Linked DNA regions of Homo sapiens. The protein of the gene in region 1 interacts with the protein of each later gene in a biochemical or structural test. Each region holds a gene or a part of one and is shown on either strand. Other genes may lie near its edges. The genes, in order: TSPAN12 and RNF152.

Evidence for each region.
Region 2: the proteins of TSPAN12 (region 1) and RNF152 form a complex in vitro, tested with the Homo sapiens proteins (one study listed by BioGRID).

What each region holds. Positions count from the first base shown.
Region 1 is NC_000007.14:120,842,135-120,858,487, reverse strand, and holds the start of TSPAN12 (tetraspanin-12), read left to right. Parts: upstream 1-343; 5' UTR 344-668; intron 669-1,279; exon of another isoform or gene 1,280-1,653; intron 1,654-1,654; 5' UTR 1,655-1,724; coding exon 1,725-1,790; intron 1,791-16,353. UniProt on the Homo sapiens protein: Regulator of cell surface receptor signal transduction. Plays a central role in retinal vascularization by regulating norrin (NDP) signal transduction.
Region 2 is NC_000018.10:61,883,954-61,900,915, forward strand, and holds the start of RNF152 (E3 ubiquitin-protein ligase RNF152), read right to left. Parts: upstream 9,055-16,962; 5' UTR 8,842-9,054; intron 1-8,841. UniProt on the Homo sapiens protein: E3 ubiquitin-protein ligase that acts as a negative regulator of mTORC1 signaling by mediating ubiquitination of RagA/RRAGA and RHEB.

The DNA.
Region 1 (16,353 bases):
GGCACCATGTTAATAACAAATCACAGGAGGTGGCTCCATAAAGGTTGTGAAAACTAGTTTCTCATTGCAGGAATTGGGTTGGGCCACCCCTTCACCCCCCTTCTCAAACACAAATATTATCATATAATAAAAGCCTGCTTCTCTATGCTTATAACCCAGCCTCCATTCCTTCGACGCCACCATTTTAAAGGGATTTACTGCACGGACTTCTCCCAAGTTCCTAGGCATTATCTTCTGGACCCTATCCTGCAGAGGTGAAGCGTCCCTTTGGGGACTCTCGCTGGGTGAGAGGGACAAGAAACACCCACTAGGACCCAACCCCGGCAGCCAGCGGCTCGAGCATGCGCTGAGAGTTTGTGCAGCTGGCCCTGGCTGCCGCCGCTGCCTCGTCCGGACTCGGAGAGGACTTGGGAGGGACAGCGGCGCTGGGAGGTGGCTTAGCAGAGACTTTCCAGCAACTGCTGCCCAGGACTTTTTTTTTTTTTTTTCTTTTTCCCAGGAGGCGGCGACGGCGGCGGCGGGGGGAGAGGAAGAGAAAGAAGCGTCTCCAGCTGAAGCCAATGCAGCCCTCCGGCTCTCCGCGAAGAAGTTCCCTGCCCCGATGAGCCCCCGCCGTGCGTCCCCGACTATCCCCAGGCGGGCGTGGGGCACCGGGCCCAGCGCCGACGGTAAGTGGCCACGCGTCTGTCGCCTTTCCTGCCCGCTGTCCCGCCAGCCCGCCGGCGGCTGCCCTCCGCGCTGTGTGCTAAACTACTTAAGGGCTGGCTCTGGGGCTCCCTGCCGCCGGCGCTTCCCCTCGCGCCCTGCCGGGGGCGCGCGGACGCGATGGCTGGGTCGGTGGCCGCGCTCGCTTTGTGCTCCGCGGGCGGCTTTGAGCGAGGGGTCGCGGGAGCGTCCCGGGCGGGGGAAGCGGGGTTTGAATGACTAACCCGGCGTCTGCACAGCTGCATCGGCCCTAATTCCCCGGCGCCCCCCGCCCCCCGCCCACTGTCCCAGGCTAATCCATCATTCTGGGGCCGAAAACATCATTTCTCACGTTCTCCCAGAGAAACCCTAGTAGCCGGGCGGAATCTCAACTCCGCGCTGCCCCCTCGCCCCCGCCCCCGCCCCCGCCCCGCCGCCCCAGTCCCTTGCATTCACACCCGAGCTGCGGGACGGGGTAGAGGGGTGCGGAGTTGGAGTGCCCAGGAACTGTCCTAACTAGAAGGGCGCTCATTCTCTCGGGCTTGCCGGTGGCGCCTCTGACGTGTCCGGGGTAGGGGGCAGTGTGGTTTCTCACCTTCAGGACAGTGCCGAGCACAGCTGTCCTCGAGGAGGGGCGTGGAGTGAGGGAGGTTTTCAAGAGCGTCTCATCAGAATGCACAGGGCTCCGCCGCGTGTCCCCTGAGAACGCGAGTTTACTGTGCGACTTCATTCATCCGGATAGTTGCTCTTTTCTTTTCCCAGCAGGTGTTATCTGAAGCCGGTTTGGAACTTTTGGGAGTTTAGTTACCATTATGATTTTAACAAATGATTTTTGATGAGGCGATGTCTCGAATGCACTGGGCCTCGGGACCCTCTGGACCCTGCTGAGGGCGGGTGGAGGAGGGACGGGCAGGCTGTGGGAAGCGTGATGGTGAGATGTCCCGTGTTCTCTCTCCCCCGCCCCCTGCAGATCGCTGCCGTTTTGCCCTTGGGAGTAGGATGTGGTGAAAGGATGGGGCTTCTCCCTTACGGGGCTCACAATGGCCAGAGAAGATTCCGTGAAGTGTCTGCGCTGCCTGCTCTACGCCCTCAATCTGCTCTTTTGGGTAAGTAAGTTTCACTGCACCAACAGGTGGGAACGGCTGGCTCTGGTTTTCTGCAGCCACCGGATAATGCGCCAAAGGGCATGGCTAAGCATTAATTAATTACATGGGATAACACCCTTTATTTTTCAGAGAAGTAAAATTTGACCTTCTTAAAATGCCTTTGATCTAGCTCAAGTTCCATTTGTAATTAGAACAAAGAAATCCACCCCTGGATACTACTGGCAGTAAAATTAGACTTGAAGTTAATCTAGGGATATAAATAAATGCACGTGCTTCTACTCATAGATAAGAAAATTATGACATACTACTTAGGGAACTGCTTGTTTGCGGGAATTTTAGATAATTGTGCAAGCCATAAATTGTTTCTTTACATCTCTGTCGCCTGTAAAATCTAGTTGGGCCAAGTCTTAATATATTTTTTGTGGGCGGGGACGAGGGGGAGGTGGTGGTGGAATTCACACCCAGATAACCTATCACAGAAAGGCTGAGTAGATTTGTCTAGGGGATTCCATACGGTCTGAAGGGTGATTTTTATGTAACTAATTCTAAGTTGGCAAAGTTTAAGGAATTGTGTGTATGCTTTTGGAAAATCCCATAACCATTTAAGGAAATAAAATACATAAAATGTAACAAGCTCATGGAAATCTTTATGCCCTATGAGTTAATGACTTTTTATGCTTTAAATCTTAATAAAGTATGATTAATAATCGTATTATTACTTATAAAACTTAGGAAAATGTAACAATTTAAACAGTAAATGTTGCTTCAGGAGGCTGCCATTCTTAAGCAAATTGTTCTTTCCATTTTTTTGTGTTCTATTAATAATTTTATTCAAAATTTTCTGTTACAAATTTTATTGTGCAATTTATTTATGTGGCTGACTGGCTGGCGTGCTGACTGGCTGGCATTGCCCAGCCTTTTTTTCATAGGGCTATTACATGTGGTCTCTAGAAGATGACATTTAGGTTGAACTGCACCTTATAGATGGCCCCATTTTAAAGGATAAATTAAGTCTTACTTCAGTGAGTAATCTGAAAATATCTAAAATGGCAGCATTCCTTTTCTCAACATTAAAGCATTAATTTCTCAAAATTAAAGCATTGGGTAGTTAAATTCACCATTTGGAAATGTAAAATCACAAGTTGATCTTATTGTAGTTTATACTTCTTAAAAGCTTGATTTTTAAGTGAATCATTAAATTACCTGGATCATTAAAAGTTATTAAGAGTTTAAACTCCATTTCTTTAAGATGTATGATAATTATCACTCCTGTTTACTAGTTTTTCACTTTTCTACATTGTGCTTTTTAATTATAGAATCATCACATTCCACTTCTAAAAGGAGCTTTAAAGATGGCCTGGTTGAACGTCCTTCCTTTGTGAGTGAGGAAATTAAGTGCAGATTAAGTGACTTGCCAAAGATCAGATAGTCCAATGGTGGCAGTGCCAGGAACAGAATTCAGCTTTCTTGCCCCTAGACAGTGTCTTTCACTTGACCCTTACTGAGTTTTGAACCTTAGAATTACTAAGATTGTTGTTGTTGTTGTTTAATAAAGAATAAAGCTTTGAAAAATTTGTTAATACTTTACATTGTGTGGGAAAAAAGAACCAAATCATTCAACAAAAATATCACTCCTCTTGGAAATGAAATTTGCATAAAAGCACCTATTCCTGAAACTCTTCCAGGGCTCTTTGTGTCCCCAGAGAATGTAAACGTTATTTCTTTGTTGTTACCCTGTACTTAAACCTTCTAACTTTCTATGTTTGTGTGTGGTGTGTGTGTGTGAGTGTGTTCTGGTTTATTGACTTATTTAGATTGCTTCCCTATTTCTCCAGCCCTCCTCTTCTCCCAATATCACCTACGCTTCAACAAAATAATCCAGGTTAAGCATCTTGTATACGTTTTTCTTTATTTTGTTTCATACAAAGATAGATTTACTCATACCTGTCCACAACAGATACACAATGCTATACATGTAAATTCTTGATTTTTTTGCTGTTAAATTAGTTTCTCATTTGGGTTAGAGTCATAGGAGTGGAATTGCTATGTAAAAAAGTATGTGATAACAACAACAAAAACAAAAGTAGCCAACCTATCTAACTAACATACAAAATAGCTAACGCTTCTTACTATGTTTGCCAGGCACATTTAGTGTCTGTTTCCTAGCCTGTAAAATAGGAATCATAGTTCCCTATCTTTTAGAGTTGTGAGGAGGATTAGAGTTAACATATATACAGCGCTGAGAACAGTGGCACATAATAAGTGCTATCTCTGCAATAGCAGTATTGCAGTTATTACTATAACTACTACAATGATGATGATGTTCTAGCAGATTACCAGGAGGTGGATTGCTACTATCATTATGGTACTAATCATAGTAATTGTTACTGTTATGATTAATACTGCTACTATTGCTACCACTACTGCAATTCCTTTGACCCAACAATCTTGTTCTGGGTATCTGTTCCCTAGAAATAAAAGCAGTAATTACCCCATTATATGTACAAAAATATTTGTTGCCATCTTGTTGGTAATATGGCACTTCTAAATCTTTGCCAATCTGAAACATTTAAAGTATTATCTCATTGTTACTTTATTTTGTACCTACCCTACTACCAGTGAGCAGGAGCATCATTTTATGTATATTTTTCATATACATCATTTCATTTCATATTCATTAACTATTTCATATTTATCATTTAGGTTTGCCCTATATTTTAAGTGTTAATTTCATTTATGTTATCTGTTTCTATACAATAGTTAAACAAACTTTTCTATATTCTGTGTAATATAACTTTCTTTTCTTTTCTTTTTTTTTTTTTTTTGGGACGGAGTCTCACTCTGTCACCAGGCTGCAGTCCAGTGGCGCAATCTCAGCTCACTGCAACCTCCACCTCCCGGGTTCAGGCGATTCTCCTGCCTCAGCCTCCTGAGTAGCTGGGACTACAGGTGTGCACCACCATGCCCAGCTAATTTTTGTATTTTTTAGTAGAGATGGGGTTTCATCATATTGGCCAGGCTAGTCTCGAACTCCTGACCTCATGATCCACCCACCTCGGCCTCTCAAAGTGCTGGGATTACAGGTGTGAGCCACTGTGCCCGGCCTGTAATATAATTTTCTACAGGATTTTATATGTATAAATACGAATATATTATGTATAAAAATAAATATAAATATATGTCTAAATATAAATATGTGTGTGTATATATATATATATATATATATCTGCATTTCTTGACTTGGTTAAGGTTTGTTTTTAAAAATGTTCTTTAAGATTATTTTATCCAATTAAAAATATCTGTTGAGGCTGGGTGCAGTGGCTCACACCTGTAATGCAAGCACTTTGGGAGGCCAAGGCAGGTGGTTAATGAGGTCAAGAGATTGAGACCATACTGGCCAACATGGTGAAACCCTGTCTCTACTAAAAATACAAAAATTAGCCGGGTGTCGTGGCGTGCACCTGTAATTCCAGCTGCTCAGGAGGCTGAGGTAGGAGAATCACTTGAACCTGGGAGGCAGAGGTTGCAGTTAGCAGAGATTGCCCCACTGCACTACAGGCTGGTGACAGAGTGAGACTCTGTCTCAAATTAAAAAAAAAAAAAAAAATCTGCTGGGATTTTTGTTAGAATAGTATGAAATGTATAATAGGCTAATTTTAGGGAAACTGATTTTACTTCTTCAGTGTTAAGGCAATGTTTGCAGATCCTATCATTACCAAGTCAGAAGGTGTTTTCAGCCTGTGCTGGAGACATTCCTGGCCATTGTTAACATTACTCTCATCTAGTTCTCATAATAGACCCATAAAATAGTTTTCTTTCTTAGTCTCTCTCTCTCTCTCTCTTTTTTTTAGATAAAGAAACTGGTACTCAGTAGTTCAATAACTTGCTAGTAAGTAGCAGAACAGGAATTGAAAGTCCAGTTTTGTTTTTTATCCAAGTGTAGTAGAAGTTAAATTGCTGGAAACAGTGATGGATTTATTTGCATGAGAGAAGTCAAGTAAACATCCTCAGAAGGAAGGGATTAGCTGTCCACCTGCTCATTCCAAGTTCTCTAGAACAGTGCTTCTAAAACCTCAGAGTGCATGCACACCTGGAGATCTTGTTAAAATGCAGATTTGGATTTAGTATGTTGTGCGTTCTATCTGAGAGTGCATTTCTAACAAGCTCCTCTGTGATGCCAATGTTGCTGGTCTGAGTGCCACACCCTGAGGAGCAAGGCTTTAATACTAGCTTTTAGTTCTCATGGGAATTACAAGTAGAACAAACCAGTGTGGCATATGAACCCCACTTCTTAAACCAGACTTTACATTCTGACTATGGAGAGGGAGATTGTTCCTCCCTCTGGGTCTGCAAGATTGACAACCTTGTCCCCATTACCCATGAGGTGAAAAGCTATAGGCTTTTACTCTCCACTGGCATTTTAAGTAGTCTTAGTTTTTTTAAATCTATTTTTACTATATTGGTACCTTCTTACCTTTTCTACCCCACTAGGATTTTAGGGAAAAAAAAATAAATCTTAATCACAAAAACATTGGGAACCCATTCAATTTTGTTTTCCTGTTCTGAGAGTCAAAAATCAAACTGAGAGTTTTTTTTTTAAGTTAAAAAGTATATCTTGAGTACTTTTTAAAAAATGTAAGGCATAGATGTGTTTTTAAGTGTAAGCTATAAATGCGTCTAAGAAGAAACAATCCATAGCACATTCAAGATCACACATGCTCTGCATTCTCTTTATTGTATGGATCCAGTCACCTTGATTTGCCATCTGTAGAGTGTCTTTTCCACATCATGAAGAAGCCAGATTCTAGTACTATTGTACTGGGGTCGGCACAAAAGTATTGGGCCTTCTAGGTTTGTCATGAGTATTGTGGGTCTGTGATGGGAAGGAGCACATAGGAGATGGTGTGGGTAGGTGAACTGCCTGAGGGTTCTTTTGAGACCATGATTCACCTTCTCTCCATGGTGGAGTAAGGACGTGGGTTACCTTTCCTTCAAATTTATACGCTTTTATTACTAGTAAAATTTAAATGGCATATTATTTAAAGAAATGAGAGCTTTCTACCATTTTAAAGACAGTTTCTGTAGCTTTTTGGTCATTTGTATTTCTTAGATGGTAATTTTCTATTATTGCAAATATAGATAAATATGGTTCTCCTTGAAAATTTCTGACATTGGTGAACATTTAAAATTCATCAAATATGTGTTTGTTTCTAATTTTCTAAATGTATAATATAAACTCCCATATCTCACCATTATATAAGAACCATTGTTTTTTACTTACCGTTACTAAAGATAATAGCAATAGAGAAGAACTACCCTGATTAAATATGAAAAGTAACTTATAAAAGAAAGTCTAAAAAAGTAGACAGGAAATTTAGTTTATGCTTTTGAGATATATGCGTGGCAGATGAAATGACAGGAGGCTCAATGCTCTCTTTCTTTTTCTCTGGCCATCCGTAGTGAACCTTAAGTGTTTGATCCACACAGAATCTGAAGAGTTAGATCCTTGGCAAGTAGAAGTTTGAATTCACAGGAAGGACATTTATGAATCATATTAAAATACTACATTTTAAATTGGTGTCCCCAACTTTACGCTATGAATGGTATTCAAGTATTTTTGAACTCTTCCTAAGGAATAGTGGAAAGCCCTCCAACAAATATTTGTGGTCTTTTAAAATAAATTTTCACCATAAAAAATTCCTTTAGTCAGCCGGACGCGGTGTCTCATGCCTGTAATCCCAGCACTTTGGGAGGCCCAGGCAGGTGGATCACCTGAGGTCAGGAGTTCGAGACCAGGCTGACCAAAATGGCGAAACCCTGTCTCTACTAAAAATACAAAAATAAGCTGGGTGTGGTGGCATGCATCTGTAATCCTAGCTACTGGGGGGACTGAGGCAGGAGAACTGCTTGAACCTGGGAGGGGGAGATTGCAGTGAGCCAAGATCGTGTCACTGCACTCCAGTCTGGGCAACAAAGTGAGACTCTATTTCAAAAAAAAAAAAAAATCTTTTAGTCTCAGAGCAAAGCTGATCGACCTTTTTATATATACATTGTGGCTCAGCTGAGCAAAGACTTGAGCCGCTGCATGCTTCTTAAGGAATGTTTTTTGAGAAGTACATGGAAGATTCTTCATAGCACATTCTGCTGCATACTGAGCAATAGGCTCCTCCCTCATTGACTCCACTCAGGGAATAATCCTGAGCTGGGACACTGGGGAAGTGGAGTTTACTGCAGTTAGACTGCACAGAAACTATCATGTAGAATGAGGCATTTTACTCTTCTTCTACTTATAGTGACTTTAGGGTGATCATATACTTTATCATGGCAACTAGGACAATGTGGAGACTGAAGAAAAGGGGATGTTTCTGCTAAGAATTATGCCCAAACAACAGAGGCTTATAGTGGGTCTCTTCTGGTCAGATCAGGATGCATGGTCACCCTATCTATAGGAAAACATGGTGGTCTAGAAAAACTATCGGTCAGAACAGCTCCAGGGTGATACTGATTTATTCAGCTCTAATTAATTGATGTTCATTCTGAAATGATACCCACCAGTAATCTCCAGACTGTATTTCAGCCATCATTTACATTGCCTATTCTTTCACAGCTTTAGCAAATAGTGTTACCTGTTTGCTCTCTTTCCTTCTGCCCTTCCCCTGGTAGAGGGAAGCTGAGAAGGCACAGACTCACAAAAAGGCAAAAGGGAGCAGGCCTGGCAACATGAAACACACGTGTGACTCACCTCGTGTGACCAGCCTCCAAATAATCAAGGCTTGATCTTACTTTTACATTTTAACAAATAGCAATTTAAAGGCTAAGTATGGTGGCTCATGCCTGTAACCTCAGCACTTGGGAGGCCAAGGCAGGAGGATCAGTTGAGCCCAGGAGTTCCAGGTGCAATGAGCTATGATCATGCCTAGGAGACAGAAAAAAACACCAGAAAAATTTAAATTCTTTTTTAAAAGAAGGAAAGCTTCTGGTCCAATTTTCCCATTTTCAAGATTAGCCAATAAAAATTATGAAAGTTTGAATTATTTGTCGAAGTCCTTTTCTATACAGACAAAGCTGTAACTAAGATTCAGGTCTTTTATGTTCCTCTCTTTGCTAACAGGTTTGACATGAAAAGTTTAGGTATGTGGTTTTAGACAGCTGTCATCCTTGAACAGAAATTATTTGTGTCACTGTCATCTTATGTGGGACTATATGTTACAGATGGCAGACAGTTTAAAGATAGAAAGGACTGTTTCTTGACCGTGACCTTACTATTTTATGGAAATTATAGGTACACATTTCATAATACACTTAGGAAATGCGCATACACATACAATTCTGATTCAGAAAACAACTTGATTCAAGACTTGTTTTTATATAATTAGATGCAAGCAAAAGCAGACCATGTCCTCAACACTGCAAATTTTATGTTTCCAAATATTTGTTGAAAGCTAGCACTTTCTAAGTATTTTGCAAGAGACATTGTGACAAATGTCCTGCCAAATAATATATTAAATGTATTTCTATCAAGTAACACTTTGTTTAGTTTTAAAATATCTCCTTGAGCTTCAGGTAACATGTTGCAATACTGGAGAAAGCAAAAGGAGCTATAAAACCTAGCTGCCTGTGATAACTATAATGTTCCTAATAATTTAGCCAATGTGAGTGGCATTTGAAGGATTATTTTCATAGTTACTTTGGAAAATTAGCAGAAAATAACATGTTTAGCAAGGAGTCCTGAATTCCTCACATAAGTTGTGCTTCTAGGTTTAATATCAGGTTTAGTTATTGAGTTGACCTAGTCTCGTTTTAGTTCAGTTTCTTGCTATAGGCATGCACTATATTTGTTTTTATTGTTATCATTTTCTCAAGCCCAGTGAGTAAAGCCTCACTTGTTGAGGATGAAACTGTTCTCAGACATTTAATGTTGCTGGAATCAATTCCTTGAGAAAAAGCCATTTTATTCCCAGGGTTGCTTGTTTACTATAGAGTAAGGCTTGGTGTTATTATTTATTTTGACTAATGTTCTGTGCACAGCTGCAATGTTTGGGTATACTCCTGTGAAAAAAAACATTGGGACAGAGTATAGTGCAAAGTTTTAGTTTAAAGTACTTTTGAGAACACTTTAGCCAGCTTCTAATCTGATATATAAATCTTTGACTTTGTTTTTCAGAAACCATCTTTCTTCTGGAAAACTTCCAGTGATAGAAAGCTCGGTTCTTATTAAAACATCTTCTAATTTGTTTAAAAATCTCTAACAGCTTATCTAGCAGGATGAAACCATCTCCCTTTAATTTAATTATTTTCTCATTCACTCACCTAACCTATATTAGGCACCACTACTGAGCCTGGTACTTTTCTGTGTGATGGGGAGATAGGCCATGTTCTGTGCCCTCTACTGGGATGAGATGGAGGGACAGAAACAAGAACAATAGGATAACTGCTTTATGAGGTATTTGCAAAGAGCATTAAGAGGGAAAAGATCTGTAGGTAAGGCGGGAGTTGGGAGAGAATCTTTACACTGGACTTGATGTTCAAGCTGGGCTTGAAGGAAAAGTAGATGTTGCTCAGCACATGAGAACAGGAAAGCTGGGGCAGGATGGTATTCCAGGCAGAAGGCACTGCAGGAGTGAAGATGTATAGGCACTGGGAGGTGTGCATGGTGCATTTTGGAGATGTGCAAGCAGTTTTGTTGTTTTCCATATATAGAATGTGTCTAGGAAAGAGCTGGCAGGAAGCACGGTTTAAGAAAAAGTTTAAGGGGTAGCTGAAGAGGGCCTGGTGTGCCCTGCTCAAGAGTTTAAACTTTGTTCTCTCAGAGGCAGTTGAGGGAAGACGAAATAAATGGTAGTTGAAGAAGAACCATAAAGGGTAGCTATAAGCAGAAGAACTTGATCTATGTTCTATAAAAGTAACCGAAGGGTGAATTGGAGGTGAAATCTGTGAGCTGAAGAGTTCTATTATAAAGTAATTATAGTTGGATAGCAAAAGAGGATGAAGGCCTGAACTAGCCAGTTGTGGCAGAAAAGGGGGAGGAATTCACCCGACGCCTTGCCAGAACAATTTGAAGGACTTGAGACTAATTAGATATAGAGCTGAGGAAAAGGGAGAGGTTCAGCTTCCCTGCCAAGTCTCTAGTTTACATGATTGAAGGATTGATTATACCATTTACAGGAAAAACAGTGGGAGGGACATACAGGTTTTGGAGGAATGGAGGTAAGTTTAGTGTTAGAGATGTTGAAATTGACCGTGATAGTATGATAGATAGTTATATCCCAGAGTTTCCTTTCTTGTCCATCTGGTAGACCTTCAAACAGCTGAAGATTCCATTTCTGAATTGATTTAGGAATAGTCTAATCTTTCAGACTGACTGAGAAAGATTAAGAGAAAACCCTTAAGTCTAAAGTGACTTGCAGTAATTATAGGTTATGTATATGAGAGTCTCACTCTGGTTTTTTGTTTTTTTTTTTTTTGTCATATAGCTCTTCTATGAAGTAGGACTTATTTTTATATCATTTTACAGGTGAGAAAACTGAGGCATAGGAAAGTTCAAGCTGAATGTCATATAGCTAAAAGGCAGTAGAGCTGGAATTCCTAGCTGAAATTCAAAATTCAGTGGCTTCTCATTGTCATGATGGTGAAGCTGATATACCTTGAAATGGCTTCCAAGACTCCATGCAGTCTCACCCCTGCCTGCTTTTTCCTTCTCACCATGTGCCAATTTTGCTTACCATGTCATGTTGCCTTCCCTCGTGGGGCCTTTGTTCTTTCTGACCAGAAGGTTATTTTCAACCCTCCTTTTCCTGAGTAACTTGATAATTATCCTTTAGATCTTAGCTCTCTTAGAGAAGTTCCTTTGACCCCGTGGAATGGGTCAGGCCCTCCCAAAGGAATTTGTACAGAAACTTGTACTATGTCTTCTCAGCGCTTGTTACAGTTCTGTTACATATTTATATCCCTGATAAGTTGATTAACCTGTGTCCTCTTCACTTAGTTAATTGCACCACAGAGGCAGTGTCTGTTACTGTTCATCAGTGTATCCCTAACACATAGCACAGTGCCTGGCAAAGAGTGGGTGACCAATATATGATTTTTGAATGGAAGAATGACTTCAAAGCCCAGGCTTTTAATCATCCTGCCATATAAGAAATGTCTTGGAATACACCACTTAAAAGATATACACTTTTTTTGTTGTTAAAAATGGAAGACCTATATGTAGTAACTAAACTGATAATGAATTGTACACTATGAAGAATGAAATAATGTTTTGACACGACTAAAAGCTGTGTTACTGAAAACTGGCTAAACAGCCTATAAAGCCAGTATAGAACAGAGAAACCAACAGCAGTCATTACTTTGAAGAGTGATAAAGAGAGGAGTTTTTTATAACTGTAAAATAATTTTAGATAATGAAATAAAATACCACATGATATGGTTTGGATTTGTGTCCCTGCCAAATCTCATGTTGAATGTTGGCTGAGAGGCCTGGTGTGAGGTGACTGGATCATGGGGACGGATTTCCCCCTTGCTGTTCTCATGGTAGAGAGTGAGTTCTCAAGAGATCTGGTTATTTAAAAGTGTGTAGCACCTCCCCCTTCTCTCTCTTACTCCTCCTCTGGCCAGGTAAGATGTGCCTGCTTCCCCTTCCACCATGTTTGAAAGTTTCCTGAGGCCTCCCCAGCCATGCTTCCTGTACATCCTGTGGAACCATAAGCCAATTAAACCTCTGCTCTTTATAAATTACCCAGTTTCAGGTATTACTTTATGGCAATGCTAGAATGGGCTAATACAGAAAATTGGTATCAGGAATGGAGCATTGCTATAAACATACCTGAATATGTGAAAGTGGCTTTGTAACTCAGTAACAGGCAGAAATTTGAACAGTTTGAAAGGCTCAGAAGACAGAAAGATGAGGGAAAGTTTGGAACTTTCTAGAGACTAGTTAAATTGTTGTGATAAAAATGCTGATAGTAATATTGACAAATGAAGTCCAGACTGATGTGGTCTGAGATGAAGATGAGGAACTTACTGAGAACTGGAATAAAGGTCACTCTTGCTATGCTTTAGCAAAGAGACTTGTGGCATTGTTCCCCTGCTTTAGGTATCTGTGGAACTTTGAACTTGAGAGTGATGATTTAGGGTAATCTGGCAGAACAAATTTCTAAGCAGGAAAGTGTTTAAGATTTGGCCTGGTTGATTCTAAAATGTATGGTCATATATGTAAGTAAAGAGATGTTCTAAAACTGGAACTTATATTTAGAAGGAAAGCAGATCATAAAAGTTTAGAAAATTTGCAGCTTGACCATGTGGTAGAAAAGATAAACTAATTTTCCGGAAAGGAATTCAAACTGGCTGCAGAAATTTGCATAAGCAAAGGGGAGCTGAATATTAATATTCAAGACAATGAGGAAAATGCCTCAAAGGCATTTCAGAGACCTTCATAGCAGACCCTCCCATCACAGGCCCGAAAGCCTAGGAGGAAAGAATGGTTTCATGGACTGGGCCCAGGGCCCTGCTGCCCTGCAGAACCTTGGGACACTACTCCCTATGATCCAGCTGCTTCAGCTCCAGCTGTGGCTTAAAGGGGCCCAGGTACATCTCAGGCCACTTTTCCAGAAGATGCAAGCCATTAGCCTAGGCAGCTTCCATGTGGTGTTAAGCCTGTGGGTGCACAGAGGGCAACAGTTAAGACTTGGGAGCCTCTGACTCAATTTCAGAGGATGTATGCAAATGCCTGGATATCCAGGCAAAAGTCTGCTGCAGGGACAGAGCCCTCATGGAGAATCTCTACTAGAGCAGTGCCGAAGGGAAATGTGGGGTTTGAGCCCCCACAAAGAGTCCCCACTAAGGCACTGCCTAGTGGAGCAGTGTGAAGAGGGCCACTCTCCTCCAGACCACAGAATGATAGACCCACTGACGACTTGCATCATGTGCCTGGAGAAGCTTCAGGCACTCAATGGCAGCCTGTGAAAGAAAGCAACCACAGGGACTGTACCCTGCGGAACCACAGGGATAGAGCTGCCCAAAGCCTTGGGGGCCCACCCCTTGCATCAGTTTTGCCTGGATGTGAGACATGGCGTTAAAGGAGATTATTTTGGAGCTTTAAGATTTAATGACTGCCCTGCTGGGTTTGGGACTTGCATGGGGCCTGTAGCCCCTTTGTTTTGGCCAGTTTCTTCCTTTTGGAATGGTACTGTTTAGTGAATGCCTGTACCTCCATTGTATATTGGAAGTAACTAACTGGTTTTGATTTTACAGTCTCATAGGCAGAAGGGACTTGACTTGTCTCAAGTGGGACTTTGGACTGTGGACTTTTGAGTTAATGCTGGAATCAAAGTAAGACTTTGGGGGACTGTTGGAAAGGCATGATGGTATTTTGGAATGTGAAAAGGACATGAGATTTGGGAGGGGCCAGGGGTTGAATGATATGGTTTGGATTAGTGTCCCCACCGAAATCTCATGTCGAATTGTGATCCTCAGTGTTGTGGAAGTGACCTGGTGGGAGGTGATTGGATCATGGAGACGGACTTTCCCCTTGCTGTTCTTCTGGTAGTGAGTGAGTTCTCAAGAGGTCTGGTTGTTTGAAAATGTGTAGCACCTTCCTCTGCTCTCTCTTTCTCCTGCTCTGGCCATGTAAGATGTGCCTGCTTCCCCTCCCACCATGATTGAAAGTTTCCTGAGGCCTCCCCAGCCATGTTTCCTGTACAGCCTGAGGAACCATGAGCCAACTAAACCTCTTTTCTTCATAAATTACCCAGTTTCAGGTATTTATAACAGTGTGAGAATGGACTAATACACCACATTAATAGACTTTTCTGTCCCGGAGATACTTACAAGGTTTTAAGGACCCACATATAGCCAAGTAGAGGGAGAACATGTGCCCACAGATTTCATCAAAGAGCCAACAGTCTTCTGCTAGCTCTGTGTGTTTTAATATGTTCTGCTGTCAATTAGGTATGCCAAGGCCAACAGACCAGGAGATGGCTGCCATTGAGAAGACAGTTTATTATATTCGTAAATCCCAAGACATGGAGTACACATCTCATTATGGGGGGCCAAGAGGGGAAACACTAGGGTCAGTCACAAGGCACAAAGAGAGATGGGAACTGTGGGCAAGTGCTTATACCATGGTTCCTATGGGAAGGTATAGGTGAGGCAGGTAAGTGGGTTTAGGATTGGCCAGTTTGAACAATTGGCCTTGGGGTGATTAGGGCAGGTGTGTAGTGGCCCCTAAGTGGGAGAGCCCCATAAGGGAGGTACTTAGGAGTTTGGATTCTGGATTGCATGGTTTGTATTTGAAAAGTGCACCCCTGGGAGAACATCTCCTCTTGAGGATGGAACAAGCAACGAGGGAGGCAGCAGGCCAAGGCAAGGTGACTCAGGCACATTTTTAGGTTCTCCAGAGCAGGATGTGTCTGGCATATATATGCAGAACAGATGTTAATGCATCAAAAGAAGCTAGAAACATGGCTAATTCACTGCGACTGACTCACTTATAACTTTTATGAGTTTTACAATCTGTTCACTTCTAACAGACATGAGAATAATAATAACTGGCCTAATTCTACTCTTGAATGTGGTCCCAGGGTTCTTAACCTAACTTATAGGCCATTGACTCCTTTGACAGTCTTATAATTTTCAGAATATTAAACTGTATTCTAATTTGTGGATTAAAATACAGATTAATAGTAATATTAATTAACAGTGATTAATTACTAATAGTAATTAATTACTATAATCTGAATTTTATTTCAGATCCATTATTTCAGAAAGGGTTTTTAAATGGTGATGCTCTAGAATGCGTCCTACAAATATTAGCAGAAATTCTTCTATAAAAGATTAATATAATTAATATAATATTACTATTAATCTGTATTTTAATCCACAAAACAAAATGTATTGGCTTACAAAGGAAATTAATTATATCGAAATACATTTGTATTTACAGGTCAAGAACCACTGAGCTCCCATTCACCAAAGAAAATAGTTCAGACATTTAAACTGAACCTGACTTCTGCAGGAGACCCACTGCCCATCTTTCTAAAAAGGAATTCTACATGCTGTGTAGGGTAGTGTTTTTACCCTCTGTGAAACATACCATGCCTGTTTCTCAACTTGGGAGACAGTGACTAACCCTGGCACGTCGAAGCCCAACAGCTTGAATTTGAATCCCAGCTCTTACCTCTCAGGATCTGAGAGACCTTCAGCAGGGTATTTCCCTTTTCTGTGCTTCAGGGCACTTTTTTTTTTTTTTTTTTAACAGTTTGTAATTGTCTTCTTTGTGTAATTATTGCCTGTGTTCCCCAAGAGGTTCCAAGAAGGCCTGGATCTTATTTCTCTTATTTATTGTCAGTCTCTGAATCTTGCCCAGTCCAAGGCACATAGTAATTGTTGGGTAAATATTTGTAATGAATGATGGAAGTGTGAATTCACTAGCTGATTTTCCAAGCAGATAGCCATAATTTACTGTTCAAAGCTGTAGAGCTCTACACAGTCTGTTTACCTTGGAGCTTTCATGCAGAAAGCACGTTTCATGGCCACCAGCTGAGTTAGCGCAGACTCATTTCTACCT
Region 2 (16,962 bases), on another chromosome or scaffold:
ACTCCCATGTAAACGCTGAAGGCTGTAGTTACTTGGATGCCATCACCTCCTTGGCTAGCTTAAGGGCTTCTTCAGGTTAGACCATGCCTATTCATCCCGATATTTCCAGAACTGAGCCCAATGATTGGTGGATGGTAGATGCTGGATATAAGGACGTTAGCAACAGCTGCCATTTATTTAGTCTTACATTGTGGAGGGCAACACACTAAGCACTTTATATGTAAGTCTCTCCTGTTCTTACACTAACTCAATGAGGTCGGTTCTCCCCCATTTTGCAGCTGAAGAACAAACTCAGTCAGACCTTGTGCACTCAGGTCACGTGGCAGACGTGAAATTTAAACCCAAACCCATCTTACTTTTTAAAATTCCAGTTCATAATGACTTACCTGAATTAGAGCCATGTAAGGCAGGCATATATGCTAAGGTATCAAGAATTGAGAGAATATCAGATACATTTCTTTTATTCTCTACCCTTTTAGCTTTGCCATTACAAAAAAAAAAAAAAGCAGAAAACCAAATTAATTATGAGTTAAATACCTACAGGAAGCTAGAAGGCAGGGATTTTTTTAGAATTATGCCTGGTAAAACATAGGCATTCAACATTCTTTTGTTTGTTTGTTTGTTTGAGACAGTCTCATTCTGTCGCCCAGGCTGGAGTGCAGTGGCACAATCTCAGCTCACTGCAACCTCCACCTCTCAGGTTCAAGCAATTCTTCCTGCCTCAGCCTCCAGAGTAGCTAGGATTACAGGTGCCCACCACCATGCCTGCCTAATTTGTATCTTTTAGTAGAGACGGGGTTTCTCCATGTTGGCCAGGCTGGTCTTGAACTCCTGACTTCAGGTGATCTGCCTGCCTCAGCCTCCCAAAGTGCTGGGATTACAGGCGTGAGTCACCATGCCTGGCCATTCAAAATACATTTAATGAATGCAATTGTTTGCCTAATAAGTGGTTTAAATACCTGATGCTCAGTGTTTCAAATGCTATTTTACACACCACCATAGGTGAATGGATGGATCTGTACCTTCAGTTTCTGAAGTACCAATGTAAAGGAGTGGAGTGGATGGACTATTTATCCCAGTTAAGGACACCTCTTTACCTGCATGGTTGAATTAACTATTACTCACTTAAAATGGCAGTAATCTTATGTCTCATGCAACAAAAGGGGTAAATTCTCCAAAGTACACAAATTTGTCCATGTGCTCACCAACCACTTCTAATCTCATATTATTAATCTTCGAGGAAGCAATTTGCAAACCTACCCCAGAACAACACAACTGCAAAAGAATATCACAACAAATACTTGGTTCCTGAGACACTTATCTCAGCCCTATTCACTACCTTTCAAACTGAGAGTGTTTTGTTTGTTTGTTTGAGACAGAGCCTCGGTCTTTTGCCCAGGCTGGAGTGCAGTGGTGCGATCTCAACTCACTGCAACTTCTGCCTCCCAGGTTCAGGCAATTCTCCTGCCTCAGCCTCCCAAGTAGCTGGGATTACAGGTGCACACCATCATGCTTGGATAATTTTTGTATTTTTAGTAGAGATGGGATTTCACCATGTTGGCCAGGCTGGTCTCAAACTCCTGACCTCAAGTAATCCACCCGCCTCAGCCTCCCAAAGTGCTGGAATTACAGGCGTGAGCCACCACGCCCAGCCGAGAGCGTTATTTTAATATTAATGTATTTCTGGTCATTTTCTTCAAGCAGCTGAACATATTTCCCTCTTTCATAATAACACTCTCATAATGATCAAGCATTTTGAGTATCAAAGAAGAGTTTCTATCATGTGAATGAGTATTCCAAAATCAAAAAAAGGGAGGTAAAACAGATGTATATCACAAAGGTATTGAAGCCTTTAATTATAAACGCAGGTGGGGCAGTCAGCGGTGGGCAACTACACCCAGTCATCACAAATCCAGGCATCAATGCCTGCTCCGTTAGATTGTGGGGTGGTCTGGTAGGCTGTAAAGTCCTAAAGCTGCTTGTTGTATGTCACCAAGTAGAGGTTTTTTTTCTTTTGCTTTCTTTTGCTTTCTTTTTTTTTTTTTTTTTTTTTTTTTTTTGTGGGCAAAGTAGGAGGCAAATGGAAGTTGAAAAACAGGCTTTGAGTAACAACTAATTTTGTTAGAATCATGACCCTCATTGAGAACATTCACCTCCCAAACATTGGTATACGTACTGCAGCCTGGTCATTCTAATTTGATTCAACATTTAATCATTATTAATGCAAGTAGGGGAAGCTCTTAAAAATAAGTTTCTATCTTCTTAACTTCCTTTAAGACTTCAAGCTAAAAGGGTCTAAAATTCCTTTAAATCACTGTAAGTCAAAATCGTTTTCTGTGTTGTCAAAGAGTCACCAATGATTTGTTTATTGAGCCCTTCCTGTGTACAAACACGGTGGCAAACACACAATGGTGTAAAGCCTCATCCAGTCATCTTTAAGGAGCTTGCAAGAGAACTGAGATCTCTTTGAGTGCCTATACAACCAATCTGTTTTTCACTTTCAATACAGTATTCAATAAACTACATGAGATATTTGATGCTTTAATACAAAATAGGCTTTTTGTTACATGATTTTGCCCCCATTGTAGGCTAATTGCAGGTCACAACTGCTACATCAGCCAGCCACAGGCCCCCTTGGAAGGAACTGTGCCCCCAACCCTCTCCTGCACTAAGCAGGTCCAGGGTGAATGATAACTGGAAGGGTCCCATTCACTGGAACTCTTGGGAAATGTGGCTTGATGACAAGACATCCTGGGACATCTCTTCAATTCACCTCCCTTTATGCAAACAAGCTTGAGTGAATTTCTATTCTTTGCAATTAAACAGAAAGAAAAAGACACTTCAATCGTAGGTGATAATACAAGACAATCTATGACAAGTGGCCTTTGTAGAATGAATGAATGAATGTTGAATGAAATGAGAGATGGAGGCAATTTTGCCAGAGAACTTTGGATTATAAAGAATTTCTAAAGGCTAATGTGATCAAGTTAAATTTTTCAGAAGAGTTGAGAGCTGAACTGAGGCTTCGATGATAGGATAGAGGCAGAGGAAGGAAGAGGACATTTTAGGCCACAGAATGTGCTAGAATAAGAAAGAGGCAATGAAAAACATTTTGGGCAACAGTGGATTAACCATCCCAGCTAATGTTCAGTTTTAAAGTCAGGCGGAGCAAAAGTCGAGGTTGGAAAGGAAGTTTGGGGTCAACCTGGGGAAAACTTGAAAAGCAAAACTGAAGAATATGAGCTTCCTCCCACAAGGGCAACTAAAAGTTATTAAGTGAGGGGATGAAGGATTAATTGGCCTAATGGTCTAAGAGTGACAGCATTTTCCAAACTGGAGTGGGGTGGGAAAGCCAGAAAGTGAGCAAGACCATTGTCATAGCCCAGAGAGAAACAAGGTTCTTGACTAAGATGCGGCAGTGGCAACTGTCACTAAGTGAATCTGTCAAGGAGCAGAAACAGCAATAGTAAGAAGAATGCTCCTGGCTAGGTGCGGTGGCTCACGCCTGTAATTCCAGCATTTTGGGAGCCCAAGGCGGGTGGATCACGAGGTCAGGAGTTCAAGACCAGCCTGGCCAACATGATGAAACCCTGTCTCTACTAAAAATAGAAAAAATTATCCCAGTAATCCCAGCTACTCGAGAGGCTGAGGCAGGAGAATAGTTTGAACCCAGGAGGCAGAGGTTACAGTGAGCTGAGATCATGCCCCACTGCACTCCAGCCTGGGTGACAGAGTGAGACTCCATCTCAAAAAAAAAAAAAAAAAAAAGAATGCTCCCTATTTCTACAGTATCTGTCAAAGCTTTTACCAAAATCTCTTCAATTCTTGTCAAACCTCAGTGAGGAGTGCACCAAGTGTGATTATCTGGATGTCTAGATCAGAACTGAGCCGGGAAAGTTACACTTCCTTGGTAGGTGGGAATGCGATAGTGGCAGGGGAGAGGAGGTTGTAGAAAGAGAAAATACAAGCACAGAACACAGCATTTGGAGATTCTACTTCCTCATAACTTTGCTCCCACCAGCAGCACATCTTCATTTGCTCAGCCCCTCCTTTGCATGAAAGGCAGGTAACCAGGAAGTCTATGTGATGTTTGAGTAAGTTTCATCATGCAGGATGTTTGCAATGAGTTTTATTTATGCAGGCATTAGTATATCAAGGGGTAAATAAGGCATCCTCTCCACTCCTAGGCGATCACAAGCAGCCCCCTCACAACTCCACGAAGAACGTAGTCCAGGCCTTAGCAGCCAAACGTGATCTAGGCCAAGAAATCATGGACATCAAGAACCACCCAAAGGAGATGCAGGTCACAGATACACTATTTGAGGTCTCCCTCTTTAAATCCTACAATGACAGTGAGTCAATTAGAAATTGAAAATCCCTAAGCATGTAACAAGCACAGACGGTTCCCTACTTACAACTGTTTGACCTATGACCTTTGATTTTTTGACTTTACAATGGTGTGAAAACAATACACATTCAGTAGAAACCGTACTTTGAGTGCCTATACGACCAATCTGTTTTTCACTTTCAATACAGTATTCAATAAACTACATGAGATATTTGATGCTTTAATACAAAATAGGCTTCTTGTTACATGATTTTGCCCCCATTGTAGGCTAATGCGCATTTCTGGGCACAGTTAAGGCAGACAAGGCTGAGCTATGATGTCAGTAGGTGTATTAAATGCATTTTCCACTTACAATATTTTTAACTTATGAGGGGTTTATGAGGATATAACCCCACTGTAAATTAAGAAGCATCTCTACCAACTTTATCCCAATTGTGATTTCAATCATGGAGTCAGACTGCTGGATCACACAGTGTAACTCTCGAAGCCATGGGAAAAGAAGCAGGAAAACCAACACCTTCTTCCTTTCCGGTTTCCATGACGTCACAATGGGCAGTGCCAGAAACCACTTTCATGCCACAAGAGTCCTCTACCTGACCAGCCGACTTGGGTATGAAATTAAAGTGGTAGGGACCCAGAGGCCAGAGAAAATATAGAAATGCATTTTGGGGCTTCCCAAATATAGTTCAAGACTAGTCCCTCGGGGCTTTCATTTTCCTTCTCCCTCAGTCTGTGCCTGGCCCTCAGCCCAACCCCAGGCACCCTGAATGGGTTTTTGGATGGTCTATATCTGGTTCTTCCTGCTGGTCTCCAAGCTGCTCATCTCCCAATTCAGAAACGCTTTGGGTGCTACATCTTATCACTTGAATGAAGCCGGGTGGTCTCAACCTCCCTAGGTTGATACTGATATCCCCTCAGTCACTGTGACTTGGAGACTAACATAGTTTACCACACCACTTCCTTATTTGGAGAGCTATCTTTATAAAAATGACTTTGCCAAGGTGATTACTGAACCAAAAGCAATATTATTTTGTTAAATTCTACACTTATGCTTAAGGTATTTATCAAATCTTTAAAATGGCTCACCCGTGCATGCCGTTATCACAATGTGAACAAAGATATATGAGTGAACAGCTCTTCCCAAAGCAAAATCTCTGCAAGCCACCAACTGCTGAATCCAGAGCACCTTGCAATGCCTATTCCATAGCATCCAACTCTTTTTAGGGAGAGTGAGGCAAGGAAGGCTTTAGAACTCACCACCCTCCTAGTCAATACAGTTGCTGATGGAAGCACAAATGTCCCTAAACTCTCTGGGTGTTCTACTAGTCCTGTGACCAGAAAAAGCCTCTTGCCCAAATTGCTTTTTCTAAACATCAAAGTAACAAAAGGGTGACCCAAGGTTACCCTAAACACATTCCTGCCCCCTTCAGATCTTATCTGTTGCCCTGTGGTCTCTGCTGCAGGAGGCCACCTCCTGGGTGGCCCTAGGCCCATTGCCACTCTTTTTCTACCCTGGGCGGTTCCAAACAAACTCAGGAAGCCTTAAACAAGAGGCAGATGGTGAGGAAGAGAAAGTCTGTAAGTAACACCTCTCTATTACATAATGCTAAGCTCACAACCTCCTAGAATCAGCCTTGAAAATACCTAATGGCCTTTCACTTCAGAGTAAACATGCACTTGAAATAGGCAAAGAGAGGATTATAATTATTTTATTTGATGACCAGTGTACAACCATGTTAGTAAATACCATATCAACATATTAGTAGTACATTACAGGTGGGGGTAGGACCATATATTAGTAAATTACAGGTTGGAATAGTAAATATACAGGTTGTAAATTACAGGTTGTTGATTCAATCAATACTCTTGTGACATCCAATACCCACCAAGCACTGAGCTAGGTCCCATAGGACACACTTTCTAACCTCACCTAGACCAGATCCCTGTGGAAGTCACTAGTGCTACTCACCCATATCCACTTCTCCCTTTTTCAGCACAAGAAATATTGAATTGTGATTAAATAGGGTCATATGCCCAGTTCTGGCCAAAGTGATGGAACTCACCTCTGGGTAGGATCACATAATTGCTAGAGCAAGACCCTGCAGCATTTCCTTCCCGATGCTGCAATGATCTTGCAAGCTCACATCAAGACCAAGACTCCATCAGTTTGAGTCCTTGAGTGACTACGATGAGCAGGGTCCACCTGCCAACCACACTGGATGCAGCATGGGAAGGAAAGAAACTGTATTTAGCTATGGAGACTTGGAGGTATTTGTTACTGCAGCATAACCTCACCTATCTTGCTGGTACGTCACTGTTTAAAAAAGAGAAAAATCTGCAAAAGCATCCCATCAATCTGTTTTCTAAATCAGATAATATGGAAAAGCAACATTTGTTTCAAAATTCAACTTCATCAGGAACTGAACACTACCTTGAAAAGCAGAGGGTGCTGACAGCATAGGTGGGTTCAAACAACTCTGAGGGAATTAGAAATGAAAACAGAATGACCCTCAACAATGTAAGGACCGAACTGTATGGAATTCAGCTAAAAAGACTACAATGAAAATGCCACCTTCTGACAACAGCAACAGCCATTTATGAAGCAGTGAGCTCCTCAATGAAAGAGGCATTAAAGTTGAGGCTGGATGACCATATTTTCTCTCCCCAGAAGTCCAATCCTACCTCTCTTGAGCTTCCATTGAAGTTAATTAGAATCAGGTCTTCCTATAGGGAGTTCAATTTTGTGTCTCCCCCTACACCCAACCCCAACCCCTTGAGTCCATTATCTATCACAGAGTCCATTATCTATCAGGTGCCAATAAACATCTGCTAAATGAATAAATGAGCATTGTAGAAAGGAAGCAGGCATTGGAGGCAGAGATCAGCCTAATAGCCTCTAGGGATCCTCCAGCCTAAAGCTAAACACATCTGAGGGTGGGGAGCCTCCTTCTTATATAAAAAAAATTAAGCATCAATGGACACTTTATTATGATTTATTACTGTACACAATTTAAAACCACAATGAAACCTAACACTGCACTGTGGCTATCTTTGTTCTTGGACGTGCATTTACATGGGCAGGCTACTGTTTTGCCATGTGGAATTTTGTGTGCGAAGTGTTTATTCTTTCTATTAAAAAAAAAACCACACCCTTGTTTCTATTGCATTATTACATTCCCTATTATCCCATCACATGTTTTTTCTTCTTGCAGCAACACAGTACACACCCTGTACTATTGCTGACATAAAAATTACTTGTCAAAAATACCTCTATCTTAGCACCACATTACTCATCTGATCTTTGCAAAGCACTGGCCTTTGTTTCACCTGGGACTAGATAACTCAACTGCTTTTACTAGTGACTCCTGAATGCTTGTAGTAGAAGGATAAATGCTAGTGTCACCTATGTTTTTAAAGTCACCTTCCAAAACAAAACTACATTGGAGGTGAATAATAAATCTTTCAAGTTTTTAACTTCATTTTTCAAGGGATTTGGAGGAAAATGGTGAAGAGAGAATCTGTCACAGATACCAAGGTGTTACTGCAATGTAAAAGAGAGTAGACCAGGAGCCTTTGGCCCTCAGCAATCTGTCTTCCTACAAGAAAAATCGAAAGCCCATTTCCATAACCATTCTTATTCCCTGCTACTAGTGTAGGATGCGCAGGACTCTGCCCTCTAGCAGAAAATGCTAATGCCGGAGTGTCCTGCTAAGTCTGAAGGTTACGTTTTTTCATTGCACTCTTATCAAGATAACCCCAGATCTGGCTAGGCTGACATCAAAACAGAACTATCCTTGGAAAGAAAAGAACAGGCCAGAGTTTTTGGAAAAGCCCCAATAACCTAAAGATAAAATCCAGAATGAGAGTCTACTGGTTCATGGCTATCTAAATGGAAACTTCACTCAAGCTGTTTTCTCTGTTCTCTTTCTGCTGCCCCCAACAGCCCTCCCTTCCACCTCCCAGTACTCACTGCTAGCATGTCTCTCTTAATATTGCAAACACTATTACAATGAAGGAACAGAAGAAAGACAGTATTTCATACGAAGGTCACTGCATTTGACCGGTGCTCAATTAGAGCACTGGGCAAAAGTACAATCAGCCTTCCAATGATACCTTTTCAACAAAGGATACCCCACCTCTAGACTGAAGCCTAAATCTATTACTACAGATAAGAAAGCAGGCATCTATGGAAACCTAACATTCAGATACAACTGCCTGTGTATGAATTATATCAAAATTCCCATGAAAGGAAACCAGGTGGGATTTCTACAATCCCAAATTCACCCTGCACCTACCTCCAATGGCTTCTTCAAAGGGAAGGTATAAAGTCATTTGCAATTTATTTCTTTGAACCAGGAGTTTTAGCAGCCCCCACACCTTCTCACAGATAGGAACGATGTTGATGCAGAAACCACCCAAACAGCCCTGTGCCAGCACTGTCGGCCCAAATGACCCAGAGACACCCAGGCGCTACCCAGATCGTGGGGGGTTACCTGTATCTGTCACCGAGTCTCTTTCACCCCTTCTGCGTGATGACATCAAGTGGAAATGGTACACGTTTAGGAGGCAAGAGGCTGACAGGCAGGAAACACAATTGAGACTGAGCTTTCTTCAGCCTGCAGTGAAATACATGCAGGAAGGGTTAGATACGCGCCGCGGAGAAGGAAATCCAAGCGCCCTCCTGGGCAGACGGGGCTGGAGCGGGTGCACTAGGGAGGTGGAGCAAGGCAGATGAGGTGTGGAGGGCTGGCGGCCGAGAAGGGGGCGTCACGGCTCCTAATTGTCTCTACAGGATAAATAACCACCTCCCCCCTCCTCCGCAGTCTCCCCCGCCCACGAGTTCCCCTCTGGTGGCAGAGCGCCTACTAGCAACAGTAAGCCCTAGGAAAGAAAGAAATCGGAGCAGGTGGGGAATAACATCTTGGGGCAAAGACACACTGGCAAAATCTACCAGGTAACCCGGTCATATGGGAATGCGGGGCGCCTAGTCAGCCGCGCAGACAGGCACACAGCGCGGCAATCCCGAGCATCTTTCTTTCGTTTGCCCCTGTCCGCCACCTCATCAAGTCACCGCCACCTCATCAAGTCACCGTCACCTCATCAAGTCACCGTCACTCTGCTTTGGCGATTTCTCTACTCTCTCCAGACCCAGGCAGCGCTCCCCAAGCCATGCCCCGACCCCAGGCGGGATTGGGGACCGCCGCTTCCCGAGCAGCGCCCCACGAGTCCAGCTGGCTTTGTCCTGCCGCTGTCCTTCCAGGAGCAAGCGCCCCAGGCGCGTGTGTCTGCACAAAAGACCCCCAACATCTGGCCCTTCACAGCGCTCTCTAATCCCGGGAGGGGCCCTGGGGCAACTTCTAGGGCTGGAGAAGGCGCGAGACAAGGGGACCGGGAGAAGATGAGCCGGGGTGTGTGCGGGCCGGGGGCGCAACTGGGGCGGGCGCGCGCGCACGTGCACACCCAGGGGCGCGCGCGGCGCGGGCACGAGGAAAGCTCCCTCGGACCGGAGCTCCAGGGGGCATCCGAGGACTCGGCCGAGCAGCCGACAGCGCCGCTCCCCGCCGCGGCCGCCCGCCCAACTCCGCCAGCTCTCAGGAGACACGCAACTCCCGGGACCACCTCCCCCGTGCCCCGCCAGACCCCGCGCTCCCCTCCCCGGGACCCTGCGGCCCCGCCACCCCCTCCGCGGTCCAGAAGATCTCCCCAGTTACAGCAGGCGGCAGCTGCCCTTTCCCGCTTCCACGGCTTCGGCGCGGCCGCCGTAGGGGCGCAGACATCCCTGCGCACCCCTCTGTCCGCCCCCGATCCGGAGCCGGCAGAGCAGAGAAACAAACCGAAACTCACTGACCTTTCTCCGCGGCGGGCTCGGGTGCTCGCTACAGAGGCGGCGGCGGCGGCGACAGCATCGCCGGGTGGTCCCGGCGCGCCCGCTCCTTTCAGCCAGACTCGCGCCCCGGGCCGGCGGCCGCCGCTCCTCCGGCCGAGAGCCACGGGGCGGACGCTGACAGCGCGGCGGCGGCGCCTGCAGCCCCAGCACCCGGCCCGGCCCTTCGGGCGGCACCCCCACCTGCCCGGCCGCCCTCCGCGTTCGCGGTCGGACACCGCCGCCAGGCGCTCGGCACCGAGCGAGAGCTTTTTGTGTCACTGAGACTCCGGCACCAAAGGGGGTGGGGGGAGAGGCTGGGCTCCGCTCCCCGCGGCACCGCCCTCCCCGGCGGCTCCACCCCCTCCTCCCCGCCCACAGCCCGGCGGGCCCGGGACTTCTCTCCGTCAGTCCCGAATCGCCCACCTCCCCCGGGGTGAGGGGCTGCCTACCCTCTCTCGCGCGCTCCCTCGGCTTTGCCCCCAGTGCCTACCCTCGGCCAGGACCTCGACGCCGTCTCTCTACCGTGCAAAAGCGGGACCTGAGCTGGCGGCAGGTGTGAAAGGAGGCCTGGGCAGCCGGGAGGAGGGGCAGGGCCGGGAAGGGGGCCGGGGCCGCGGTGGGTGGGTTGGGGGGTGCCCAGTCTGTGCCTAGGACCCGGACAGCGAGAGGGAGGAGCTGAGATCATCAGGTTTCCAGAAGCTGCCCTGCATCCTCGTCACCGGATACTTTTTGGCTGCCCCTAAAAGTTCACGTAGTCCAGCCAGGGTGGGGCCCCGCTTTCCAAAGAGGCCCGAATGGACACCCCACTACTTGAATCCCTCGAATGGGGGACAAGAAGCAGGGGAGTAAAGAGATGCAAGTCCTAGGGGTTATATGGAAGCGCGAACCCCACGGAACCTCGGGGCCCACCCTATTCCACACCTTAAAACCTAACTTCGACCTAGGGAGGTGCTTAGAATGTCTTGTTCCCCGGAGAAAATCTCCCGCCTCTTGAGTTAACTGCGAAATAGGAGAATGGAGGAGAAAGGTCCTTGGTAGAAGATAGTTCCATGCCCTTTGGTGCCTTTTTAAAGGATTTCTCTGCAGCATGAAAACCTAAAACTCTCTTCTTGAGATGAAGTTCAGCCTGCGGACGTTACCCGGTCCCCAGCAGCAGGGCTCAGTTGAGTGTGATCCCCACGGATTCCAGCGGCACTTGCTGCCTTTCCCCACTGCTGGAGTGGAGCCGTCTTTGTCTTAAGGTCCGTAGTATCCGCAAGGAAAGAGTCCCCATTTTCACTCCCCCAAGTAGCTTATTGAAATGCTTCTGCCAAGATTTCTTTTTTTACTTTTTCTGTTTTTTTTTTTTTGAAGATGGACTCTCGCTCTGTCACCCAGGCTGGAGTGCAGTGGCGCGATCTCAGCTCACTGAAACCTCCAACTTCCGGGTTCAAGCGATTCTCCTGCCTCAGCCTTCCAAGTAGCTGGGATTACAGGCCCGCACCACCACGTCCTGCTAATTTTTGTATTTTTGGTAGAGATGGGGTTTCGCCATGTTGGCCAGGCTGGTCTCGAACTCCTGACCTCAGGTGATCCGCCCGCCTCGGCCTCCCAAAGTGCTGGGATTGCAGGCATGAGCCACCGCGCCTTTTTTTTTTTTTTTTTTTTTTTTTTTTTTTTTTTTTAGAGGAAGCCCTGTGAGCCAGTGGGGACTCTAGGTAACCTACTATAAAACTCACAATGTACTGAGAGCACTCTTGTCATGTCCCACAATTACGACCTGTTGATGGGGTTTCCAAAAGTGCTGTCCTTAAGCACATACATAAAACTGGTCATCTAGAAACAGATAAAGCTTCATGGGTATCAGTTGTCCCTGGGATCCCAATTAAAACGTTGCCTCCTATGGTCATCTGACTGATCCTTATCCCTTTGTTCACCCAAGCTAAAACCTCCTTCGTACACCTGAAAAGAGTAAAAGCTGTATCCATGTTTTAGAAGCCTAAGGTAATCCTGAAGTAGAAGACTTCAAGAGTCTTTATTTTAAGCCCCAACTTCAGGGCAGGAAGGAGAATTTTTTTTTTTTTTTTTTTTTTTTTGAGACAGGGTCTCACTGTGTTGCCCAGGCTGGAGTGTAGTGGCCAAAATCCTGGCTCACCACAACCTCAATCTCCCAGGCTCAAGCATCCCCCTGCCTCAGCCTCCCAAGTAGCTGGGAGACTTCAGGAGTGCCACCATGCCCAGTTAATTTTTGTATTTTTTTATTTTTGTAGAGATAGGGGTCTCTCTTTGTTGCTCTGGTTTGGTCTTGATCCTGGCCTCAAGTGATCTTCCTGCCTCAGCCTCCCAAAGTGCTGGAATTGCAGGCGTAAGCCACCAAGCCCAGCTCCAGAAATTCACTTTAAGGAGAAGTTAATGAGGGTCTTGAAAACTCTGATGTTGGCAAGGAGTTGGAATAAGGAAGATGAGTTATAACATCCCAAATTTTACTAGGAAAGTTCAGCCTAGAAATGTTATGATTATACAAGAATGACTTTAAAGACTACTCTTCAGAAGCTAATTTCAGGGATCAGTAATTGTTCCAAAATTTTTCAACTCTTTTATTCAGCTGCTTTTGGAACTATTGTTTGGGGGATTCAAGCATTCAACTCGATGTGGAATAACCACCCCCATCCTGACTCTTTCACTTCCACTGGCTGGGATTTTAATTCACAGAGCATCATGGGTGTTCTGCCTTCTGTCCAGTCTTGTAAAGCTGTCACACAGAGAAGGTTAATTAACTAGGGCAGACTGGGATAGGCCAGTTCTTAAGGCTGGTCGTAGGCCAGCACTGGGGCGGGCAAAAACAGTTTGAGTCAGAGGAAGAACAGGCAACAACACGTCCCAGCAGAGTCTTCGGTGAGAAATTCCAGGATCAAGGCTGTTAGGACCAGGTAGTGTTTAGAGCTGCAAGCCAGCAAGCAGCATGGTCAGAGAATCTGGCATTGCCCTGGAGACTGGGCACTGCCCATGTGTGGGAGAGAGAGAGGGAATCAAGGCTGAATCCCAGGTCTTGAAGGACTAGGGCTGTCAGGATGGGACCCCAGCACTGGGGACTGAGATAAAGATCCAAATATTCATGAATTCATACAACAAATATTCATTGAGTATGGACTATGTACTGGGAACCTGGTCCTAGGGTTAGGATAGAGAAAACGCCCCCAAATTCCTGCCCTCACAGAACTTACATTCTAATGGAGGAATCAGACAATACCAAAAATATTGATGAAAAGAGTTGAACTCTGTAAAATATTTGAAGAGATTTATTCTGAGCCAAATATGAGTGACCATGGCCCATGACACAGCCCTCAGGAGGTCCCGAGAACATGTGCCCAAGGTGGTCAGGGTACAGCTTGGTTTTATACATTTTAGGGAGGCATGAGACACCAATCAGATACATTTAAGAAATACTGGTCCAGAAAGGCGGAACAACTCAAAGCAGGGGCTTCCAGGCTATAGGTGAATTTAAACATTTTCTGGTTGACAATTGGTTGAGTTTGTCTAAAGACCTGAAATAGAAAGGGAATGTTCAGGTTAAGATCAAGATTATGGAGACCAAAGTTCTTTTGAAATCTTATAGCGGCTGCCCTTAGAGACAGTAGGTGACAAATGTTTCCTATTCAGATCTTAGTTAATCTCTTTAGGATTGAGAGCGTCTGGAAGAAAAATATCTAGCTATGTTAATAGAGATTCTTTACAGATGCCAATTTTCCTCCACAAAGAACAGCTTTGCAGAGTCATTTCAAAATATGGAAAGAAACATGTTTTGGGGTAAAATATTTTGATATTCTTTTTTGCCTTATAATGTTATGCCAGAGTCAGGTTGGAAAGTAAATCATGATATATAGGGTTAAATAAAACCCATCTGATGAGAATTTATGATTTGTAGGGCATGACTCCCCAGACCCCTTAGATAGGAATTTGGGCAAGATGAAAAAAAAAAAATCAGAGTTTAGTCCCATGATAAATAAATAAATCGTATGTTGGAGAGTGAAAAAGGTAAGGGAGAAAACAAAGTGGGGGCCGGGCGCGGTGGCTCACGCCTGTAATCCCAGCACTTTGGGAGGCCGAGGCGGGCGGATCACGAGGTCAGGAGATCGAGACCATCCCGGCTAACACGGTGAAACCCCGTCTCTACTAAAAATACAAAAAATTAGCCGGGCGAGGTGGCGGGCGCCTGCAGTCCCAGCTACTCGGGAGGCTGAGGCGGGAGAATGGCGTGAACCCGGGAGGCGGAGCTTGCAGTGAGCGGAGCTCACACCACTGCACTCCAGCCTGGGCGACAGAGCGAGACTCTGTCTCAAAAAAAAAAAAAAAGAAAAGAAAAAAGAAAAAAAAAGAATAGAAAAAAGAAAAAGAAAAAGAAAAAGTGGGGGTGGGGCATTATGAAGTCTGTGTGTTGGGGGGGAAATTTTAGATCAGTGGCCAGGGAGGGCCTCCCTGAGGAGGCATTTTCTGAGCTGAAAACTGCAGGAAGAAAAGCACAGTGTCATGCCAGTAAATAGGGAAAGCCTGTTGCCATCATCAGAGGGAACAAGTGGGGGGTGTCTGCACTTCCCCGCGGGCAAAGGTCGAGATGCTGGAACTGGGTTACAGGGACAGTCAGATCTATAACATTGATTGATGCTGAGTCACCTGAGGTTGTATTAGAGTTGCTTACATTGGGGCAGGGATGAGTTCTTCATCTTTGTACCTGCAGCATGGAGCACAGGTGCCCAATAAATGTTTATTGAGCTGAGCCCTTAAATCTCCCAGAACCTGGCATGGAGCTGAGATTAATGTGATCCCATAATACCCAGGGCAGCCCTTCTGTCGGGGATGACACTTTCACAAAAGAATGTGATGATCTCTTCAGTCGCTTTTCATTACTGTCTTCCTGATCTGGGAGGGCAGAGATCATCTTTCAACTTGTATCCTCAGCACCTAACACGCTAAGAAGAAGGCGGACAGTGGGGCAAGAAGGCAGAGAGAGAGAGAAATCGGGAGGAGGAAACAAGCAAACCCTATTCAGTGCTTGATTATCACTACAGATCCTAATCCAGTCCAATACTGAGAGTGACTTTTCTACTCAACGTGTTTGAATTTTACATGTTAAAATTGCACCTTGAAACTGAATTAGGGTGGTAGTTGCACAACCCAGTAAATCTACTAAAAATCATTGAATTCTACACTTAACACGAGTGGATTTTATGGTATGTAAATTATACCTCAATAAACTGTTTAAAAGCATTGAAGTGGGATCCCATGTTTAGACAATTTTCACAAGCTGTCAATAATAAGCCACAAAGTCGTCTTTAACCGAACACGTTATCATCCTTCCTAATAGATGTTTAAAATTTGCAGACCAAATTGATCTGCCAATTTACTTTTCCCTTATGTGATATTAGCCACCTTAAAGTATATATAGTCTTAAAAAGTCTAAGAAGTCTTAAAGTTAGGCCAGGCATGGTGGCTCACACCTGTAATCCTATCACATTGGGAGGCCAAGGCAGGTGGATCACCTGAGACCAGGAGTTCGAGACCAGCCTGGCCAACATGGTAAAACCCCGTCTCTACTGAAAATGTAAAAATTAGCCAGGTGTGGTGGCATGTGCCTGTAATCCCAGCTACCAGGGAGGCTGAGGCAGGAGAATGGCTGGAACCTGGGAGGCTAAGGCTGCAGTGAGCCGAGATCACACCACTGCACTCCAGCCTGGGCAACAGAGCGAGACTCCATCTCAAAAAAAAAAAAAACAAAAAAAAGTCTTAAAGTTTATTTAGCCTCAAAAAGTTTACTAGTAATGATTGCTTAATATAGTGCACACTTCAAAACTGTTCTTATTTTGGGGCCCTATATAAACCAATCCCACAGACTTCTTATTCTGGTAAGATGTTCTGGATGCAAAAGGTATTAATTTGACATATTGTCTAATCTCTTTCCTATTTAGAGCCCAGTGCTACTTAGGACAATGAAACTTCATCTAGAACAAAATACTGAAGTATTTTGGAAACCTCAAAAGATTTGAATAGGAAATAATCCAAATTGCTTTTCTAAAAGTAGTGGTGGATTGAACAAAGCCATCTCTATTTTCTTTCTTTCTTTTTTTTTTTTTTTTTTTTGGGTTTTGAGATGGAGTCTCCCTCTGTCGCCCAGGCTGGAGTGCAGTGGCGCAATCTTGGCCTTCTGGGTTCAAGCAATTCTCCTGCCTTAGCTTCCTGAGTAGCTGGGATTACAGGCATGTGCCACGACGCCGGGCTAATTTTTGTGTTTTTAATAGAGATGGGGTTTCACCAGTTGACCAGGCTGGTCTCGAACTCCTGACCTCAAGTGACCCACCCACCTCAAGTGATCCTAAAGTGCTAGGATTACAGGCGTGAGTCAACACACCCCGCCTCTCTATTTTTTTAACCTCATCTTCGATATGCACAACACACATTCCAAAACAGTTGGCTAGAATGATGTGACCATTGCCAAGGGCGATGGTCGGTCACCATGCAACATGTTTAACAACCTGCAGGCGCAGACCTCCACCTATCATTTTGGGCAATGACCATACACAATCAGTATGGCCTTTATGGTGTGTGTCCTGGCTAAACATCAGCTCAGACTATGATGCCAAAGTCCTCTGGACACCCTCCTAAGCAGCAGGTATCTGCTGTGTTCTTATCATGTTTGTGCAGTTCGGGGTTGAGTAAGATCCTCACATCCACTAGCAAATTGCTGGTGTCTTTGCTATAAGTACGATAGAGGAGA